Linked DNA regions of Homo sapiens: regions 2, 3, 4, 5 and 6 are each reported to be linked to region 1. The links are microRNA targets in miRTarBase. Many come from high-throughput screens and were not tested one by one. Region 1 holds a microRNA gene; each other region holds the end of a gene's coding sequence.
Evidence for each region. The annotated mature microRNA hsa-miR-6867-5p reads UGUGUGUGUAGAGGAAGAAGGGA and lies in region 1 at 1,574-1,596, opposite strand. An mRNA with a match to its seed (bases 2 to 7 or 8) in the 3' UTR can be bound and repressed. Matches are read on the target gene's strand: a 7mer-m8 pairs with bases 2 to 8, a 7mer-A1 pairs with bases 2 to 7 and ends in A, and an 8mer does both.

Region 2: the mRNA of ANO8 is a reported target of hsa-miR-6867-5p. Seed matches in the 3' UTR shown: 7mer-A1 at 754-760, 8mer at 755-762, 8mer at 757-764, 8mer at 759-766, 8mer at 761-768, 8mer at 763-770 and 8 more.
Region 3: miRTarBase lists ABHD13 as a target of hsa-miR-6867-5p. The part of its 3' UTR that is shown has no 7-base or 8-base seed match.
Region 4: miRTarBase lists DNAJC15 as a target of hsa-miR-6867-5p. Seed matches in the 3' UTR shown: 7mer-A1 at 2,486-2,492, 8mer at 2,484-2,491, 8mer at 2,482-2,489, 8mer at 2,480-2,487, 8mer at 2,478-2,485, 8mer at 2,476-2,483 and 8 more.
Region 5: the mRNA of NCDN is a reported target of hsa-miR-6867-5p. Seed matches in the 3' UTR shown: 8mer at 1,237-1,244, 8mer at 1,239-1,246, 8mer at 1,241-1,248, 8mer at 1,243-1,250, 8mer at 1,245-1,252, 8mer at 1,247-1,254 and 17 more.
Region 6: the mRNA of ZHX3 is a reported target of hsa-miR-6867-5p. Seed matches in the 3' UTR shown: 7mer-A1 at 2,284-2,290, 8mer at 2,285-2,292 and 8mer at 2,287-2,294.

Annotation. Positions count from the first base shown.
Region 1 is chr17:40,192,076-40,195,197 of GRCh38, reverse strand. It overlaps MIR6867 (microRNA 6867), which reads right to left and starts at 1,601; the gene lies at 1,535-1,601. RAPGEFL1 (Rap guanine nucleotide exchange factor like 1) reads right to left here. Exons shown (of 15, transcript NM_016339.6): 11 at 2,935-2,985; 12 at 2,505-2,592; 13 at 2,208-2,272; 14 at 1,781-1,835; 15 at 1-1,534. The coding sequence ends at 1,410. RefSeq lists enhancers at 581-630, 255-755.
Region 2 is chr19:17,320,976-17,324,097 of GRCh38, reverse strand. It overlaps ANO8 (anoctamin 8), which reads left to right. Exons shown (of 18, transcript NM_020959.3): 18 at 214-875. The coding sequence ends at 581. It overlaps DDA1 (DET1 and DDB1 associated 1), which reads right to left. Exons shown (of 5, transcript NM_024050.6): 5 at 800-3,122. Among named protein-coding and RNA genes, the nearest start is that of ANO8, 12 kb to the left of the region's middle. RefSeq lists enhancers at 535-584, 2,126-2,742.
Region 3 is chr13:108,229,828-108,232,949 of GRCh38, forward strand. It overlaps ABHD13 (abhydrolase domain containing 13), which reads left to right. Exons shown (of 2, transcript NM_032859.3): 2 at 1-3,122. The coding sequence ends at 405. Among named protein-coding and RNA genes, the nearest start is that of ABHD13, 13 kb to the left of the region's middle.
Region 4 is chr13:43,106,895-43,110,016 of GRCh38, reverse strand. DNAJC15 (DnaJ heat shock protein family (Hsp40) member C15) reads right to left here. Exons shown (of 6, transcript NM_013238.3): 6 at 1-2,839. The coding sequence ends at 2,769. Among named protein-coding and RNA genes, the nearest start is that of LINC00400, 4.7 kb to the left of the region's middle.
Region 5 is chr1:35,565,394-35,568,515 of GRCh38, forward strand. NCDN (neurochondrin) reads left to right here. Exons shown (of 7, transcript NM_014284.3): 7 at 1-1,386. The coding sequence ends at 270. Among named protein-coding and RNA genes, the nearest start is that of TFAP2E, 6.4 kb to the right of the region's middle.
Region 6 is chr20:41,182,468-41,185,467 of GRCh38, reverse strand. It overlaps ZHX3 (zinc fingers and homeoboxes 3), which reads left to right. Exons shown (of 4, transcript NM_001384317.1): 4 at 267-3,000. The coding sequence ends at 277. Among named protein-coding and RNA genes, the nearest start is that of MIR6871, 15 kb to the right of the region's middle.

The DNA.
Region 1 (3,122 bases):
CACATATGATACAAGGCTCTTTCCCTCTTTGAGTTTTAAAAAATAAATGTACAATTCCAGAGCTTTGGGTAAAAAATATATACACCCTCATAGCAGGAGCAGCAGCTGCTTTTGCTACGGCTGTTGCTGTCTCTTCAAAAGGGAAAGAGGTGGTGCCAGAAAGAAGGGTGAGTCTGTGCCAGGAAACCTCACCCAGTAGCTGCCAGGAGCCCCTGCACCCCTCAGGCCTTGAGGCTGGTGATGGGAGAGGGAGGGGAGTAAAGGTAATAAAGGCCTTGCCAGAGTCCAGTGGCGCCTTTACAGTCTCTGCCATCCCCCTCCCCCACTTTGGGGCTGCCTGCCCCAGGTATAGGGATCCACCCCACCCCAGCTCTATGGGGAGGACAAAGGGAGAGTCAAAGAGAGAGGGACAGAGACCATGTTGTTGGTGTCAGACACATGAGCCAGAAGGGGGATGTCAACTCCCTCCTTAGCAGTTAGATATCCCAAAAAGCAGGAGTGTGGGCAGCAGACAACCCTAGCTCCTGATACTGCTCTACCCGAGCCCACTGCAAGGCAGGGGGAGGGTCCTCTAGGCAGCTGAGGCCTGTGTTTCCCTGAGCATCTTTTACCCTCTCATCAGAGCCCATCCCTGGACCTTCCAGAGGCCTGAGTGGGGGACTTGCAAGGGCTGATGGGTAACCCCTCCCACCTGCTGCTACTCCCTGCCCCAAAAAGCAGCTTGGCTCACAAGCCTGGGCATGCAGGGCAGCACGAGGAGCTGAGCAGGGAGTGTGGGGGTGGAGAAAGCACCCCGCACCATCCAGGGGCAGAGTAGACAAGGGTAGCACCAAACAGAAGGACCCCTCCCCAGCACACACAACATCCACCCTCAATTACCAGATGCACTCCTGCTCCCTAAAAGAAGACACACACACACACACACACACACACACACACACACACACACACACACACACACACACGGCAACATAATATTCCTGGGGGTCCCAGCCCTGACCAGGAAGAAGCTGGACAGGTGGTGGAGAAGAAGGCTGCCAATCCCTCCCACAATCCCACTCTGCAAGACAGAAGGGTGAGCAGCATTCTTTCCTGCTGCAAGAGGAAGTTGGAAGCTCCATCCCCAGAACAGATCTCGATGGGAGGACATAGAGGAAGGAGCTTTCTATCCCCTTTCTCAGAGGGGACAGGAACCAGCAAAGTGTAGTTTTGGCTTGAAGGAGCAATGGGGAGGGGACTTCAGCAGGATGAACAGACTTATGGGTCCAGGGGTAAATCCATCGACCTCTTTCCCGTGGAGCAGGAAGTTGCTCCACGGGAAAGATGTCAGATGTTGGTTGAGACATCGTGCAAAGTGCTTGAGTGCCAGGTGCCCAAGGATCTGGCGGGTCTGACTGGAGCCTCCACTCTCACTGACTGTTTGCCTCCAGCTTGTAGGAGAGCTCGAAGAGGAGGTTCTGGTTGTCGATGACCTGAAACTGGCGCACATAGGCCTTGGTCTGCAGGTGATTGGGGGATGCCTCCATGTCCAGGCCTAGTGGGTAAAGAGGGAGAGGCAGTCAGGTTCCCAGCTTCCCTTCTTCCTCTACACACACACCGGGCAGAAGATCAGGCTGTGGACTGAGACAGATGTTGGGCAGGAAGGCCTCTGCAGAGGCAAGGAGAGAATGGGGAACCAGCAAGTGTATGGAAATACACATCTGGACAGGGAGTTCTCCCCTGAACCCTCCCGTTCAGTCAAAGCTCTATCTGTACTGCTCTCAGTACCCTGGGTACTCACAAAGGGGCCGGCTCCGGTATTTGCGGATTGTCCTCACTTTTTCGGCCACTGAATGCTGGGAGATGACAAGGAATGAGCCTTGAAAGGGGCACAGAAAGAGGCTCCCCCTCTTATGCTCCCCCTCCGCCATTCTCCCACTCTGCTTTACTCCCTCCAGTCTCCAATTCTGGAGGGTCTCTGAAGGACCAAAGGAGTGGGTGTAACAGAGTGCCATGTGAGGGGGAGGTGAAGTTGCCCCCAAGCTGCCTGTCAGCTCTGCCACCTGTGGGTGGGTTGCCACAGTGATGCCACCAGGGAGACAGTCAAGAGTCTGTTAGGCAAGCTGGGCACTTGGAGGAAGGCTGCTATTTTTGGGAGGTGATGAGAGAGGGAGAGGATGCAAGCCCCCCACTTGTGGGACTAGGGGTTTGCAGTGCCACTCACTCACCAGCTTCTCGATGTTCACCAAACCATCTACAAGGGTCTTACTCCCTTCGTGCAGGAAAGTCAGGTCTAGGGGATGTGGAGAGAATCCAATGTGAGGAAAGGATAAGAGAGGAGTTCGAAAGGGGCCACTGCACCCGAGGACCCCGCTCTTCCCCAGAACCCACTCCGTCTGTGGTGGGGGGCTCCTCTCCAGGTGGGTACTCAGGGCTGAGTCGAGAGGGAGCTGGAAGTCAGAAGCAGGGCATAGGAGAAGGGAAGCATGGGTGGAAGCGGCACAGCTTGGGAGTAACTCTCTCACCTTTGAGGATCAGAGGCACGAAGGGAATCACAGGGGGCTTCATTTTGGAGATCACTTCTCGGTAGCTTTTGTGGTTCCTGCAGGGGTCCTAGTATTCCACAGGAGAGAGATCAAGGGACAGACTGGCCAATGCATCCCAAAGATGTCCTCAGCTTCCTCCCTCACCCCCTGCCTTGTATACATTCCTGATCAGATAGGGGTGCTGGGGGCTTTCTAATGGTGTGGTGGGGAGGGACCTGACTACTCCCCCTTTCCTTCAAGAAAAACAGGGGCGCAATCCTTCCAACCTCACCCTCCAGCATGGTAAGGAGGGTGGGGGGTCCCATACACTAAACACCTTGAAAGGAAAGCTTGAGGAAGGGGGTTTATGGGAACAGAGGGTTTCTGGGCTCTCAGTCCAAGAGCAGAAGAAAGAGCCAAACCCACTCACCGTCAGGTTCTCAAATTTGCGAAACAAGTTCTTGAATTTCCCTGGCAGCTTCTGCAGAGTTTGAAGGAAGGAGAAGGGATATCAGAGTGGAGCTCCTTGGGTTACATGGGAGCCTCGGATTAATTCTCCCTGTTGGAGGGCAAAAGGGCCTGCATGGCTTGTAGGGGGCTGGGAAGCTGGTGGGTGGG
Region 2 (3,122 bases), not on the chromosome of region 1:
AACTGTCCTCCCCCTGTGACCGGCAGGGCCGTGCCCAGAGGCAGGGTATGCACCGGAAGCCGCCCAGGGGGCCGCCCCACCTCAGTCTCTGATCAGAAGCAATAAGGCCTTTATGTGCCTGGATGCCCGGGAGGGAGCGCGGGCAGGGTTGCCAGCCCGGCGGGGTCCGGCGGGGGCGGCATCCCCCCGGAACGGCCCCTCTCGCCTCCGCAGGGACAGCGCTGGCCCCCGTGGGCGCCCCTGCCCTCCGCACCCGCCGCAGCCGGAGCCCCGCGCCGCCGCCGCCAATGCCGCTGCCCCGGCCCCCGACACCGCCCGCAGGCTGCTGGCAGTGGGACGGGCCCTGGGGCTGCGGGGGCGAGGGTGCCGCCCCCCGCCAGGCCCTGGCCGCTGCCGAGTGCCCACCCTGTGCCATGGCCGGGCCCCCACCCGCCCCCCAGCCCCTGCCGGGAGACGCCAGCTTTTACAGCCTCCCGCCCCCACCGCTACCGCCCACCTCGGATCCCCTCGAGACCCCAGCGCCCTCCCCTAGCCCCAGCCCCAGCCCCCAGGCCGTGTGCTGGCCCAGCGGCTGGCATTAGCTCTACCCGCCCTGCCTTCTCTTCTCATATGCAATATCAGTCATTCACAGGGGCGGCCGGTCTCCAAAATGCAAAATGCGCTTCAGCCCCCGAGGGCCCCCAGTATTGGTCGGTGCCCCCCATCTGCCGTTTTCCTTTCCAAACGAAAGGAAACCCACAAATCCAACAGAAAACACACACACACACACACACACACACACACACAGAACAGGCGATTATTTATTTGTTTTTAATTTATTTTGTCATATTTTTGTAAAACGGCAGAAATGCAATAAAAACTATATTTCAACAGTGCCCGAGGTCAGAGCAGTGGAAAAGGGAGTGGGGGTGGGGGAGTCTGGGTGGCTGGGGCCTAGGTTGGGAACCCCCTCCCCCCATCCTGGTACAGGCTGGCTTGACCCATGAGGGCCTCCTCCCAAAAACTGGGTCTTGGCCACAGATGGAAAACTCCAGGCTGCGCCGCCTCTGAGACGGCCCAGATTTGGAGGCCAACTTCAGCCCTGGCTTCAGCCACTAGACAAAGGAAGGAATCTCTAAGTGCTGAAAAGAGGCGACAATGTGTGCACAGGCCCCAGTCCTGAGTAAGACTCCTTCTCAAAGAGGACAGCGCGGTGGTTTGCAAGACGTGGCCCCTTCTGGCACACCCGCCTCCTGGAACATCGTCTGGGGAGCCAGAGACAGTGGGAAGAGCTTGTGGCATGAACATCAGAAGGCACCTGGCACCTGAGCCTCCTGCAGTCCCCGACTTGTGATACTGAGAGAATGGCACATTTGGGTGTCCCCAGGACACGGGGTGGCATTGGGATGCAGCAGGGATGTCCCACTGTGGGACAGACATCAGACCCAAGTCACTGGGACTCTGTCGTATGACTCAGGAACAGGAACGTGGCCTCTCAGACCCTCACATTTTTCAGGAAGAGGACAAATGTGTCCACATCCAAAGGCTTAAGGCTCAGAGACCAACATGGCCATGCTGCAGGGCTGGGCCAGTGTGAGCAAGGGGCCCTTTGGGAGGCTGTGGAGAAGTCAGAGTTCACTGGAGGCAGGAGAACAGCCTGTGCAAAGGCGGAGAAGGTGGAAGGCAGTTTGGGGGAACAGTGGGGTAAAGGGGACCCCAAAGGCAGGAGGGGTAGACAGAGGCCGGCTCAGGGGCCCAGCGTCCTCCCACAGGCAGTGGGAGCTACACAGGGTGTGTGTGCCAGGTGGGGCATGTCCCGACAGACCCAGGGGTTCTAGGGGGAGGCCACAGGGAGGCAAGCTGGGGCACAGCCCTCAGACCCCAAAGGAGGGAGCTGAGGTAGGGGAGGGGAAGGAGGTGCCCGCCCAGCAGCCCTGCAGAGCGACGGGCAGACAGCACAGGCAGGAGACAGCCCCCAGCCACTCAAAGCAGAAACTGGGAGCCAGAGAGGTCTAGACAGGCCGAGGGGAAAGGCGGGAGTGCCCCCTGCTCCCACTCTGGCCCCTGGCCTTGGAAGCTGAAGTCCCACCATCTCAGTCATTCACAGATGGACACCGCAGGCCTGCCCAGGTCACACCAACCCTGGGGACTGGGACTCCCCAGCTGGCCTGGGAGCCTCCAGGGCATTCAGCCGGACCCGGCACCATCGACCGCAGTCAAGTGTGCATTTCCTGACCACCTGTCCTGTGACCACATGGCCCCTGTAGCACCATCACTGTGGTGTAGACACTGCCGGGAGCTGGGAGGTACAGCAGGGTGGCTGTGCTGTGCCTGGGCCTGGTCAGCCACTCCTTGTGTAGGACGGGAGCCCACCCTGGCACTCTCCGTCCTTGGGAGAGATGGGCCGCCTAGGCCCGAGGGTCTGACACAGGCAGGGCCCTCCACAGTGGAATCTGGGGCAGGCGGACCCTCCATAGCCCGGAGTGTCTGCTAGCTCTGTGGCCCAACCCTACACCATCCCAACGCCCTCAGACTCAGCTCTCAAAACAGAGACCTCTGCCAGGCACGGTGGTTCACGTCTGTAACCCCAGCACTTTGGGAGGCTGAGGAAGGTGGATGACTTGAGCCCAGGAGTTTGAGACCAGCCTGGGCAACATGGTGAAACCCTGTCTCTACAAAAAATTTTTAAAATATTAGCCAGGCAGCCAGGTGCGGTCACAGCACTTTGGGAGGCCGAGGCAGGCGAAGCACCTGAGGTCAGGAGTTCGAGACCAGCCTGGCCAACATGACAAAACGCCGTCTCCACTAAAAATAGAAAAATTAGCTGGGTGTAGGGGCGCACGCGTGTAATCCCAGCTACTCAGGAGGCTGAGGTAGGAGAATCACTTGAACCTGGGAGGCAGAGGTTGTAGTGAGCTGAGATCTTGCCACTGCACTCCAGCCTGGGAGACACAGCGAGACTCCATCTCAAAAAAAAAAAAAAATTAGCCAGGCATGGTGGTGGGTGCCTGTGGTCCCAGCGGCTTGGAAGGCTGAGGTGGGAGGAAGGCTTGAGGTCGAGGCTGCAGTGAGCTGTGATTACGCCACTGCACTCCAGCCTGGGAAAGAGTACAAGACCCCAACTCAAACAAACAAACAAAACA
Region 3 (3,122 bases), not on the chromosome of region 1:
TCTGAAAATTCACATAGGATTTCAGCCATTATGGTGGAGAACACATTTTTAAGCATACCACATATGGCCAGCACTTTATTTTCATTCTTTCCGATGCGTTACCTTCCTTTATGGTGCTACAAAAATAAATTTTTGTCCTACAGAAAAATCTCTCAGTGTAGAATGCCTTCACTTTTCATCTCTGGACTCTCAGATCAATTAATTCCACCAGTAATGATGAAACAACTTTATGAACTCTCCCCATCTCGGACTAAGAGATTAGCCATTTTTCCAGATGGGACTCACAATGACACATGGCAGTGCCAAGGCTATTTCACTGCACTTGAACAGTTCATCAAAGAAGTCGTAAAGAGCCATTCTCCTGAAGAAATGGCAAAAACTTCATCTAATGTAACAATTATATAATGTTTCCCTTTTTGATTATTGCATTGTATTTTAATTTGTGCAGAATGATAAAGAATGTTCCTTTTAGAAGTGTGTTATGTCTGTACCTGTCTGAAGAGTGACATTAAACTTTGAAAGGACTTCACTGCTCCTTTACGATATTCCAAATAGTTTTTTACATTGGAAAAACTAATTCTTGGGATTCTTTCATACATTTTCATCAAAACTTTCAGTGTGATTATGTATTCATATCTTCAGTTTAATATGTCAGTATAATAGATATTGTTCAAAAGTTTCTTGTTGCTAAAGTGGTGTAATCTGTTACACAGATGAATAGCTAGATGTGGAAAGAGATATGTAAACAAGAAACCTTTGGGTATTGTTTCTTAAGTAAATATTGGGACAATCATGGTAAGCAAACTTAGTTCTGTAACTGCATTTTTCACCTTAAAAGTTAAATGAAATGCATGATGGTATTTTATTCCTTGAATTATGCAATGCAACATTTTACATGTAAATAGCACTGGTCATATACTGATGTATATGGTTATCTGGGTTATATCTATTTTTATGTAAACTCTATTTTGTTTTTGGCAAGAAGTGAAATTGAGACTTATGTGCAGGTTGCCATTGAATTTTGCTCTGGTGAATGCTGAGATCCAGCTTTTTCTTACAAATAAATGGGACCCTGTTTTCCAATACAAATGTACCGTGTTTTTGTTAGGTACAGTCTGGATCATGGCATGTAGAAATAGAAATTTAGAATTTTACTGCAGCTTTGATGTGCATATTTGAACTTTTTAACATTTGTAACTTTGGTGGCAAAGAGAATTTTAGCTTCTATCGATTTTGTAAGTCTTCAGCTGAACCACTAATAGCAGTCATAGTGAAGATTAGCACTACTTAGAATTAAATTAGGAAGTCTTTTATCATTGCAGGATTGTACATACTACTTTATAAAAATTCTCACCTTTGATTTTAAATCCCAGTACCTAGTTATATCTAACCTATCAAAGGCAAGATATCATTTATTGGACTTCTTGAAAATAAAAGTTACAAAATCCAACAACAACAACAACAAAACAATGTTCTTGGTTTTAATGTTCCAGTTGCTGTGAAATAGAACTCCTACAATCAAAAGACAGTTTTAGGAAGTCTTATTTATTGATTTTAAAAGTTTTACATGTAGGAGTGTGGGAATGAAGGAATTCTGGAGCTTTTTGACACAAAACCTATTACCACATTTAGCAGTTAAATGGCTATAGGTGGGAAGTAGGATTTAGATGTATAGAAAAGTAAGAAAATCTTACTTAGAAAAAAGCCCCTTGAAACTTGCAGGATTTACTTAATAAAAATACACGCTATGAGTCATAATTGTGCCAAGTTGTTTCATGCAGTCCTCAAAAATTAGATGTAATTGAGCTTTGTGTAATATTATGTCAGCTTTAACATATAATATTTTGAATATTTTAGCTATATTTAGTGGCTTTCTGCAAGCAACTAGAACAGAGAAGTAATGGGTCAATAATCTTGACCTTAATTTAAAACTTTCAATGGAGATAGGGCTAGAAATACTTTTGCCAAATAGCATTCTTATTCACTTTATGCCGGTATTTAGAAAAAATAAATTATAGCAAGTATGATTTCTAAGAATGTTTTTCTATAAATTACTAATTGTAAAAAGTCTTGCTTTTTAAAACAAGTTGGTAATGCATATCATGGAAGGCATATTTTGTATGTATAAATTCACCACAATTAAAGATTATTCTTGTCAGTCCTTGCTATGTAGAATGACTATTCTAAATATTAATGTATTAAAAAGAAAATACAACAAAATGTATATTTAGACACGAGCTTACATGGCATACCTTATATTTGTATCATTCTTTAAAGTTTACAAAAAAAAACCTTATGTTTTTATGTAATCAGTCATTACACTAGGGAGAAATTTATCAGCTTTAGTTCTAAATATGCTCATGAGGTATAAAAGCTATTTCTTCATCAGTATTTTGCTTTTATGCTGCTTTTTCTTTTTGATACTCCAGGTTTATAAACTATCTTTTAAAATTTTAAGCCAGGACTTCAAAAATTGTAGAGTACTTGTTTGGCGTTCCCTACCTTCATTCTCTTAGGGTTAAGGAGCCTTTCTTTCTGCAGCTAAGGGCAGAGGCTGTGCCTAGGGCTATACCACCACTAGCATCTGTATTTGAGACTGTTTCCTTAGATGGGTAAGAGGTGGAAAACAAACTTAGTATCAGGGGTCCATGAAGCCCATGGCATCATTTTTGAAAATATTTCTAGTTTTGTAGCCAAAGCAATTGGTTTTAGTAAAATGAGACTTCTTCAGGAGTCACTCCTTTACTGTGGACCCATTGCTTAGTGGGAATGGAAGTATATGTATCTATCTTGTGTATTAACTTCTGACTTATTTATACAAGAGCAGCTATAGGAGTTTACAAAAGAACTTTAAGTTATTAAGTTACTATAAATTTGGGGATCCTAGAGTGATCTTAAATATGGCAAGATACAGCTCATTTAGAATAAAATCTCACATCCATTATTTTAAAGGGAATGATTGGGGGGAAAAACTGGTGAAAAAGAAATATAAAAAGGACCCTAAAAAGAATTCTGCAAAATAAGAGAAGAAATAATTTGTGACAGGTAATAGAATACTAGTAGGATAGAAACAACTAGAAAGGAAAGTGTGACACAGTTTTTAAATTTAGATGTAGAAAATA
Region 4 (3,122 bases), not on the chromosome of region 1:
CCTGAATCCAAGGTATTATTAAAGATAAAACTAATTAAATGAGGCAGTGAAAGAAGTAAAAATTACATTTTTTTAAGCATTTACGTGACTAAATGCTTTACACATCCTTATTCTCTACTATAACCTTATTTGACAGGATTTTTTAAAATTTCTTTTTATTATACTTTAAGTTCTAGGGCACATGTGCACAACGTGCAGGTTTGTTACATATGTAGACATGAGCCATGTTGGTGTGCTGCACCAATTAACTTGTCATTTACATTAGTATATCTCCAAATGCGATCCCTCCCCCCTCTCCCCGCCCCACAACAGGCCCCGGTGTGTAGGATTATTTTCTCTATTTTATAGATACGGGTTATTGACTAGAAAATTAAGTAACTGCCCAAGATCACATAACAGGAAGATAGTATTCAAAACCAGATCTGACTCCAAGGCACCTGCAAAGCAAATGGGAAATAAGGAAATTCCAAGCTAATGCTGGGGTGACTCAAATTCTCATGAATAAAGTATGGATTAGGAAAATATGACATCAATTAAAAGGTGCATCTGAGGGTGCCCCAATATTCCTTAGCAGAGCTTTAAAAATTAGTGGTAACATTTTTTGATGCATAGTATTCAGAAAACAGCAACATTTTCTTGGTACGTAAAACTTTATGATGCCTGCTAAATGCAAGTGCTCCAGAGTAAAGAGGTTACAAAGATGAATGGCAAGATCCTTGCTCTAAAGGTTCTTGCATTTTAGTATGAGAAATAAGGTATGTTACACCAAGAGTTGCTTCACAAGGTACCAAGCTATAGCCCCTATAGTTATGTACCATGTGAAGAATAAAGTGCTATGGGAATTTATTCATTCACTCAACAAATATTTATTGGGTGCCAATGTAACACCAAACAAGACAGATACAATGCCTGCTCTCAGAAAGCTGATAATTCATATTACTTTTGCTGCATGTACCAGAAAAAGAGGGATACATTTTAGCTTGGCCTTCAGCTATGCCTAGACTTTGGGCAGGTGGACATCTGGGGATTGGGATGGCATTCTTAGGTACAAGGATAACAGGAGAAAAGTGAAAACACTAAAGCATGAGAAAATTAGTAGGACACGTATGGGGACTTTAAAGCAAGAAATATATTTTATCGACTTCAAGGTTCCATCAATTTAATTCAGGATCATTATTTTATAAACCAAAAGAAAAAATAGTAATTAAAGTTTTACTGAAATGGTTCTCAACTGGGGGCGATTACTGTCCTCTAAAGGGCATTTGGCAATATCTGGAACCATTTTTGTTGTCACAACTGATGAGAAACGACTAGTCTTTAGTAGATAACAGGTCAGGGATTATTGCTAATCATCTAAAACGCACAAGAGACCTCCCACAAAAAAAATTATTTGGCCTAACATGTCAATAATGCCAAGGTTGAGAACTCCTAAACTACAGAATGTTAGAAGTTGAAAGATGCATCTAGGATATCTAAAAAGTATTTTAAGATAGAAACAATGCAGTAGTTCAGTTTACCTGGAATGAACCCAAGATTTGTAAAGGAATACTGGGAAACAATGCTGGCACTCTATCTGAATCTGTTCTCTCACCTTTGGAATAGTAAAGTGATAATGATCAGGGACTATGTTCTAAGAAATTAATTTAATGCAGTGTAAGTCACAGGGCTGGCCTTTGATGACCACTCTGTCCAAACCTTGCTTTCCAGAAACCCTGCACTCTAATCACTCCGATTGATATATCTATTTCTGCTAATTCTCATCTCAGAATAACACTTACCTCACCAATCATATGGTATCGGAATATTTTTCTTTTCTAAAGCCTAGCTCTATGCCACTTATTCCTCCTCTCATGCAGTGTTTAACACATTCTTTTCTTCCTTTGAACTTTTAAAATATATCATCTGTATCTAACAGTATTCACTATTTGTGATTTATCCTTCCTCTACATATAAGTTCCTTTGGTTCATGATCCATGACTGCTTCATACTTGCAACTCTCAGGGGACGCACGATAGTGCCTTGCACATCAAAAGGGGTCAATAAATATTTGTAGAATGAGTAATGAATGAATATACAGTACTGGAAGACTATAATTAAATACAAACTCCTCAGACTTCTCTCAACCTTTCCTCACAGGGCTCATTTTGTAAACCTGAATCATTTTAGTAGCTCTCCAAGTCCTCATGCTTTGGCTATAGGGTCTCAGAGATAGTGGGGTTCTTTAACAAGTCCTTAACCCCTACTTTACTAAACACCATTTAATAAATTCCATTACATTTCAGATCATATCTCCAAGAGGTATCAGCCAGTGCTTGTTCTCAAGACATTTAAAACACCTTATATAGGCAGAGTCCCAAATTCCCTAAAAAAAAATTGACAATGAGGGTACAAATATAAACAATAAGAGGTCTACTCATTGCTCACAAATCCCAATTGCATTCTTGATCATATTTTTTGCACGTGTGTGTGTGTGTGTGTGTGTGTGTGTGTGTAGGGGGGAATTCAGAACATAACAAAAATCTTAAAAATGTATGAATGTCACAAACAAAATAAGAAAAAAGATCAGTTATAGAATTTAAGGAGATCTTTAAAAGATAATAAAAAGCAAGACTATTAACATTTTATTGTTATACAGCTTAATGGTGGAAGATAAGACTGTGGTCAATCCATATAGAAAATTAAGAAGACCATGTTTTAGAATATTTTGCAGGGCTTTTTTTTTTTTCGAAGTCCCCTCTTTTTTTTTCCTTCAGTGTGGTCCTTAAGCATCAATGTTTGGTGGTTGTTTCTAGCAAGTCTTTTGCTTCATTTATTTTGGCTGCTACGTAAGGAGATCCACCTGAGAGAACAAAGAAAAATGAATTAAAATACATTTCATCATTGACATACTTTAAAGTCCCCAAAATATAAAAATACTCTTTTTTGAATATTGTCTCACACATTAATCCTCTGACAAATTATTTTATAAGCTAACTAGAAATCAAAACAGTATAAATTAAACTTGATTAGTGAAGTCCTACAACTACCCAACAATAAAAAAAAACCTCTGAGAAAAATGATGAAAGAAAGTTATAATCAGGAATAACTTGAACAACATTCAACTACTGCACTGGTCAGACATT
Region 5 (3,122 bases), not on the chromosome of region 1:
ATGCAGGCCTTCACCGGCTGTGTGCCTCTGCTGCCCTGGCTGGCCCCCGCTGCCCTGCGCTCCCGCTGGCCGCAGGAGCTGCTCCAGCTGCTAGGCAGTGTCAGCCCCAACTCTGTCAAGCCCGAGATGGTGGCCGCCTATCAGGGTGTCCTGGTGGAGCTGGCGCGGGCCAACCGGCTGTGCCGGGAGGCCATGAGGCTGCAGGCGGGCGAGGAGACGGCCAGCCACTACCGCATGGCTGCCTTGGAGCAGTGCCTGTCAGAGCCCTGAGGGGTGTCCACCGGGGACAGACCCAGGGGCGGGCAGAGAGGGAAGGAGGGAGGAGGCATCTTCCCTGAAGCCCCCAATCTGGCCCCCCCCTCCCCAGACTTCCTCCCCAAAACACCCCAGCTTTCTGGCTTTTCTGAGGGCAAGGGCATGGTGCCCACCCCTCAAGTGTAAGGAACTGCGTTCCGCCCCTCAGGCCCCCATGGGGGCAGGGATCGGCTTGGAAATCAACGTGGTTGTCCCCGCCAGGCCGGGGAAGGTTGGAGCAGCCCCCAGGGAGGGGGGCACTAGGTGTCATTGTGCCCGATGTCTGGCTCCCCTGCAGGAGGGAGGCTCCAGGGTAAGACAGGGCTGGCAGGAGCAGACTGCCTCAGCCCATGTGCCCTGCCGGCCAGGGCGTGGGCTCCCCTCGGCTGTGGTGCCTCCTCTGGCCCCCCAGGTCCACGTCCTTTAAATTGGCCCTTTGGCTCTTGCCCTTGGCTCCCTTGGGCAGACAGCAGGCTTAGGCCATTGATATCGCAGTTCTTCCTATCAGCTTCAGTGACCCAGGGTCTGAACTGCCTCCATCCTAGGGCAACCTGGGGCAGACAGGCCTGGTGGGGGGTGGGGAAACCTCCTTCCACCTGAGCTTGCTTGAAGGGACCCAGAGTCTTTGGGCCCAGATCTTTAAACCTTTGTGTCGTGTTGCAGCAGAGTGACGATGGGGGTTGGGGGGTTATTTATTTTGCCTGTCCTTATCCCTGCTTGGACACCTGAGCATCTGATTCCTGTCCCCCTGGTGCCATCTGGCCTGGCTGGAGCCAGGAACAGGAGGGACACTTCCCCAGAATCCGCATGTTTCCCCAGTGATTACACTCCACTGCCACCGTGGTGCCTGGCTTTAACTCCCACCCCTGCTATGACTCCTCTCTGCAGAGACGCGACTGGCGGCTCCAGCAGGGACTACCTTTCTTATAAACCCAGGGGGACCACACACACACACACACACACACACACACACACACACACACACACACACACTCTTGATCCCTTGCTTCCCTCCCCCAGTGCGTTCTGTGATCGCCAAGTTCAAAGCTGTGCACATGTGGACACTCAATAAATGTTCATTGGTGACGAGAAGCCTCCTGCGTGGTCTGCCCTGCACCTGCTCTCTCCCTTCCAGGCTCCATCAGTTCACAGCTACCAGGTGCTGAACACATGCCCTGCTAAACACATCATGAGACCTCATTCAGCCCTTCCAAGAATCCTCTGAAGGGTTCTGATTTTACAGACAAAGCAACTTTGGCATGGATAAGTGATTGGCTCAAGGTGTTGCCGCTAGTCAGTGCCAGAGCCAGGACTCCACACAGGCCATCCGACTCCCCAGCCCACATCTTTCACTTGTACAGCAGATTGCCAAACTCATGTTGATGTGGCCAGGCCTTGTGGGGGCTCTGGTGCTCTCAAGTACAGATGAAACACTGCACCCCCGCCCCCATGTCACTGGGTTGCTGCCAAGTGGCCCTGCCATATCCTCCCATTTTTAAAGAAGTCAGGAATCCTAATTTGTATGTGAAACCCAACTTTTGAATGTCAGTAACTATCTTTAATTAAATAACTACTGATCCAACAAAACATGCAGTCCAAATGTAGCTTTCAGGTTACCAGCTGTTGATCCTGTATGCCAAATGAGAAGCCAGAGGGCCTGCAAGCTTCAGCAGATGAGCCAAGTACCCACTATGGGTACTTCACCAGTCCTGAGCCAAAGCTGTGAGGTTGGAGCCAGACAGGCCCCAGACCCATACCCTCCGCAACCTCCTCCACCTAGGCCCTCAAACCTATAAGCACGTGCTGAGCATAGCCTATGTGCCCACCTGTGGTTGGCTATGCATAGACAGGAATATTTATTTATTGACTGGTTGTACTGAAAGCCATCTTCTTAGCATGGATTCTCTGGGGTAAATATGAAAAGACATAGAGGCTAGGTGTGGTGGCTAACGCCTGTAATCCCAATACTTTGGGAGTCTGAGGTGGGAGGATCACTTGAGCCCAGGAATTCAAGATCAGCCTGGGCAACACAGTGAGACTCCATCTCTACAAAAGAAAAACAATTAGCCGGGCATGGTGCCTCGTGCCTGTAGTCCCTGCTACTCCCGAGACTGAGGCGAGAGGTTCTCTTGAGCCCAGGGGTTTGAGGTTATAGTGAGCTATGATCACACCACTGCATTCCAGCCTGGAAGACAGGGTGAGATCCTGTCTCAAAAAAACAAAAACAAAAACAAAAAAACTGTAAGCAGTGGCTTCTATGTAGGTCCAAACACAGTGTGGCTGGAGCATGCGAGCCCCTCAGACTGGCCAAACGATTGCAGGAAAACTTACAGCAACTATGTGCTCTGAGACTTCAGGGTGAGGAGGGGCTTGCCAGGCAGACACGAAAAGGAACAGCAAGGTCTGAAGGCATGCAAGCTTGAGAACTACGAGTAGTTTCGCATTCCATGGTGTATAGAGTGTGAAGTGTGGAGTGGTGGAAGATGAGGTTGAACCAGCAGGCATGGACCAGATCCTACTGTGCTGTGCTCAGAAGCTTAAACGTGGAATCATGCTGAGAGATCAAATTGCAGTTTTGTTTTTTTTAGAAGCAGGGTCTCACTCTGTTGCCCAGCCTGATCTCGAAACTCATGGCCTCAAGTAATCCTTTTGCCTCAGCCTCCCAAAGTGCTGGGATTGTAGGCATGAGCCACCATCCCCGGCTAGACTGCAGATTTTTTAGCAGATTGAATGTGATCCCGTTTGCATTTTGGGAAGATGAGGCACTGCAAGAGGAATGGCTGAGCCAGGGAGCTCAGAGAGGAGATGCTAAGTCTGAACTAAGCCAG
Region 6 (3,000 bases), not on the chromosome of region 1:
CACTGCTCCTGCTGCTAGGCCTAGGGTTTAGCAGGGTCTCTCAGAGAGTCTGATGGCCTTACAAGGTTGAGCCAGCATCCTGTCCTTAACCCACATTCCCTCAGGCTGGAGGGTGGGGGAGTGGGTGGCAGAAGGCCATTCATTGCTCATGGAATTAAGAGGTCCTCAAAGCCAGTGATGCCACCCTGGTATAGCAAGGACCAGGCTGCCTGGGGGGCAGGTGGTGGCAGCTGCCGTAGAGTGACAGGCATGTGTTTTCTTCTCAGAAACAGACTGAATTTGATCTGATTAATGTGAAGGACTGGCCAGTCTGGGAAACCGCCTGCCACGTGGAAGAGCCAAACCCGACTCTCTGCTGCCACATGCCGTTCCCATGCCCGGCTGCTGGGCACCTGGGAGAGCTTCCAGAATCCTCGCAGACAGCCCAGAGCCTGCCGCTACCCTCGGCCTGCCCACCACCAAGCAAGCAGCAAGCAAGATGGGGTTCTCATCAGTTCTTCCTCCCACAATGTAGGACCTTTCCTTTACCTTCCAATGGATAAAATAGTTCAGAGTTCATAGTCATATTCATAGACACAGAATCAAGCTTTTAACATATACATCCACCTCTATATGTTAAATAAAACATCAGATTATCAACACTGTCATTACGTAGAAACTTTGGTTAGCCAAGCAGTGCATTGTCAGTTACGTCATCTCTAAAAATGACCTGTGTCTGTTCTCTGGGGATTGCTGGGTCACAGGTGCCCCTCACCTTCCACAGTCAGGCAGGGAAGTTATAGGCACAAAGCTACGTCTGGAACCCCTTTGTGCCCCCTTTGTGTTCCTCAAGGAAGCAGTACCTTTGAAGAGATCTCTGCTGCATTAAGTGATGACCGGCTACGTTTCATGTCAGGCTTGCTTTGCCTTGTGGGCTACTCAGTGCAGAACCTGCTGTAACCCTCAGTTCAAAAAATGGACTGGCAATGTGATTAGCGTTGGATGCTTTACCATTCTCTTTAGTTGTTACCGTAATTCTGCTTTTTCATGGGAGTTTGAATCATGGACCATAACTTTTCAGTTATCAGATCAACTAAAGAAACATTTGTTGTTAAGCCTAATGTGCTGACCTATGTGCCTGCATTTTTTTTTTAATCTAGACATGTTTGGAGTGAGAGAAAGATGGAAAAAAGACATGGGGTAGGGACGTAAGTGGAAATCTATAGCCACAGCCTGAAGCTTTGACCACTGCGGTTTTCAGAGCCCTTTCTCCACACTCATTTCAGAGCCTCCTATGGTTTGGGAAGGAATAACACACTGGCCCATTAGTAAGGGTGAAGGCTGGAGGGATTTGTTGACTTCTTGGAATTATCAGAGGTAGGGTGGTCTTTAGCACAAAGACTTGCATGCAGAGATCCCTGGCAGAACACCCAGAGTGCCCGTGGCTCCCACCCCAGGGTCTGGCCGGTGTGCTGGATGCATGCCCAAGGGTGCTGGGCATCACTGGTCCTTGTGAGGATGCTTTTAAAGTTTTATATTTATGTCCCCAAACTTGGAAACAAGAACTCTACTTTAGCCTAACCCTCATGTCCTTTTTTGAATTGAGAAAATTACAGGAAATGGTGCCTTTGAAAATTAGAAAACTTGCTTACAGAGCTGTTCTAAATGGTAAATCCTCAATTTCCCCAAGACCGGTTGCTCTGAGAGTAGCTGGTAAAGAGGGGCGAACTAAAGACCTGTCCACCTGTAGCTCCGCTCATTTCTTAGAAACCACCTGCTTCCCAGAGTGCCAAGCCACAAGTACCAGGCTTCGTGGGCACAGACACCTCCTGGGCTGGGCAGAGTGACAGTGCTAGAAGACCCCAGAGAGAGGGCAAGGGCTTTGGGCAAGAAGCACTGGTGGTGTTTTAGGGACCGTCCTTCTCCCCTACCCAGGGAACTGGACCTGGCAGGGCACCGTGCTCATGTGGCTCCAAGGACAAGCATGGCGGTGGCCCCTTCTGCCTTCCAGGAGAGGTCTTGCTTTTGAAACCAAAATCATGTTCTTCTAAAGTGTCATCTTCTGCCCTCCCTGTCCCAATAGGGACCACATCTTATTTGTCTCAAACAGGGACTTGTGAGTACTTGGCAAGTTTTGCAGCCTATTTTTGTATTCTTAATTTGGGGAGTAAAGATGTTTGGTCTCAAAAACCTTTGAGGAATTGCCAAGAATGGCGAGTGATTGCTTTCCTTCAGAGAACAGACACTTGGAATTTCTCCTTTTAGTGTTTATATACGTGCAGATTAATTTATATATATATATATACACACACACATATACAGTATAAATACTCATTTGATTCTCGTAAAACGCGCATCTGGCGTGTGCAGTTGAGAAACTTGGTGGCACATGGGTGTTGGGGGAGTAGCCTGTGTTGGAGGGACACCAGTGCACTAGGCAGCTGGGGCGGCCCAGGCTGAAGCCATCTCCGGGTGTCTGAGAAACCACCCAGTGCCTCACCTCCAGATCCTGCTGGCATCACCTCCAGAGCCCTGCATGCACTGGCTGAAGAGTTGGTCTGTGGAGAGGATTTTCTTGGTTACTTGTATTCACGGTTAATTTACAACCCAAACAGCAAAACACAGTTGGTGGACAAGTTCATGCAGGACCTACAGTGACCCAGCCATGGGCACTAGCTCATCTTTCAGGTGGAAAAGTACAGTGCTGCCTGCCCTGGTATGTTTTTCTTATAGATGTTAGCCCTGCCCAACAGCCAGGGCTACACTACAAAAGGCAAGAATGCCCATGTAAGGAGCCCAGCAGTCTGGACAGATCCTTCTTCCTCTGCTGTTGGATGAGAGTGAGTGAGTATGCTCTGGACCTTATCCTTGAAAGATGATCAAAAGCGATGATGAGGGAGGCAGTCATCACGCAGGTGCTTAAAGGGACATTGTAGGAGGTACTCAAGGGTTTGGGGGCAAAACCCTGAATCCAGCCAGTCGTGCACAGAGACACACCCACACTAGCCCAGTGGCAGTGGG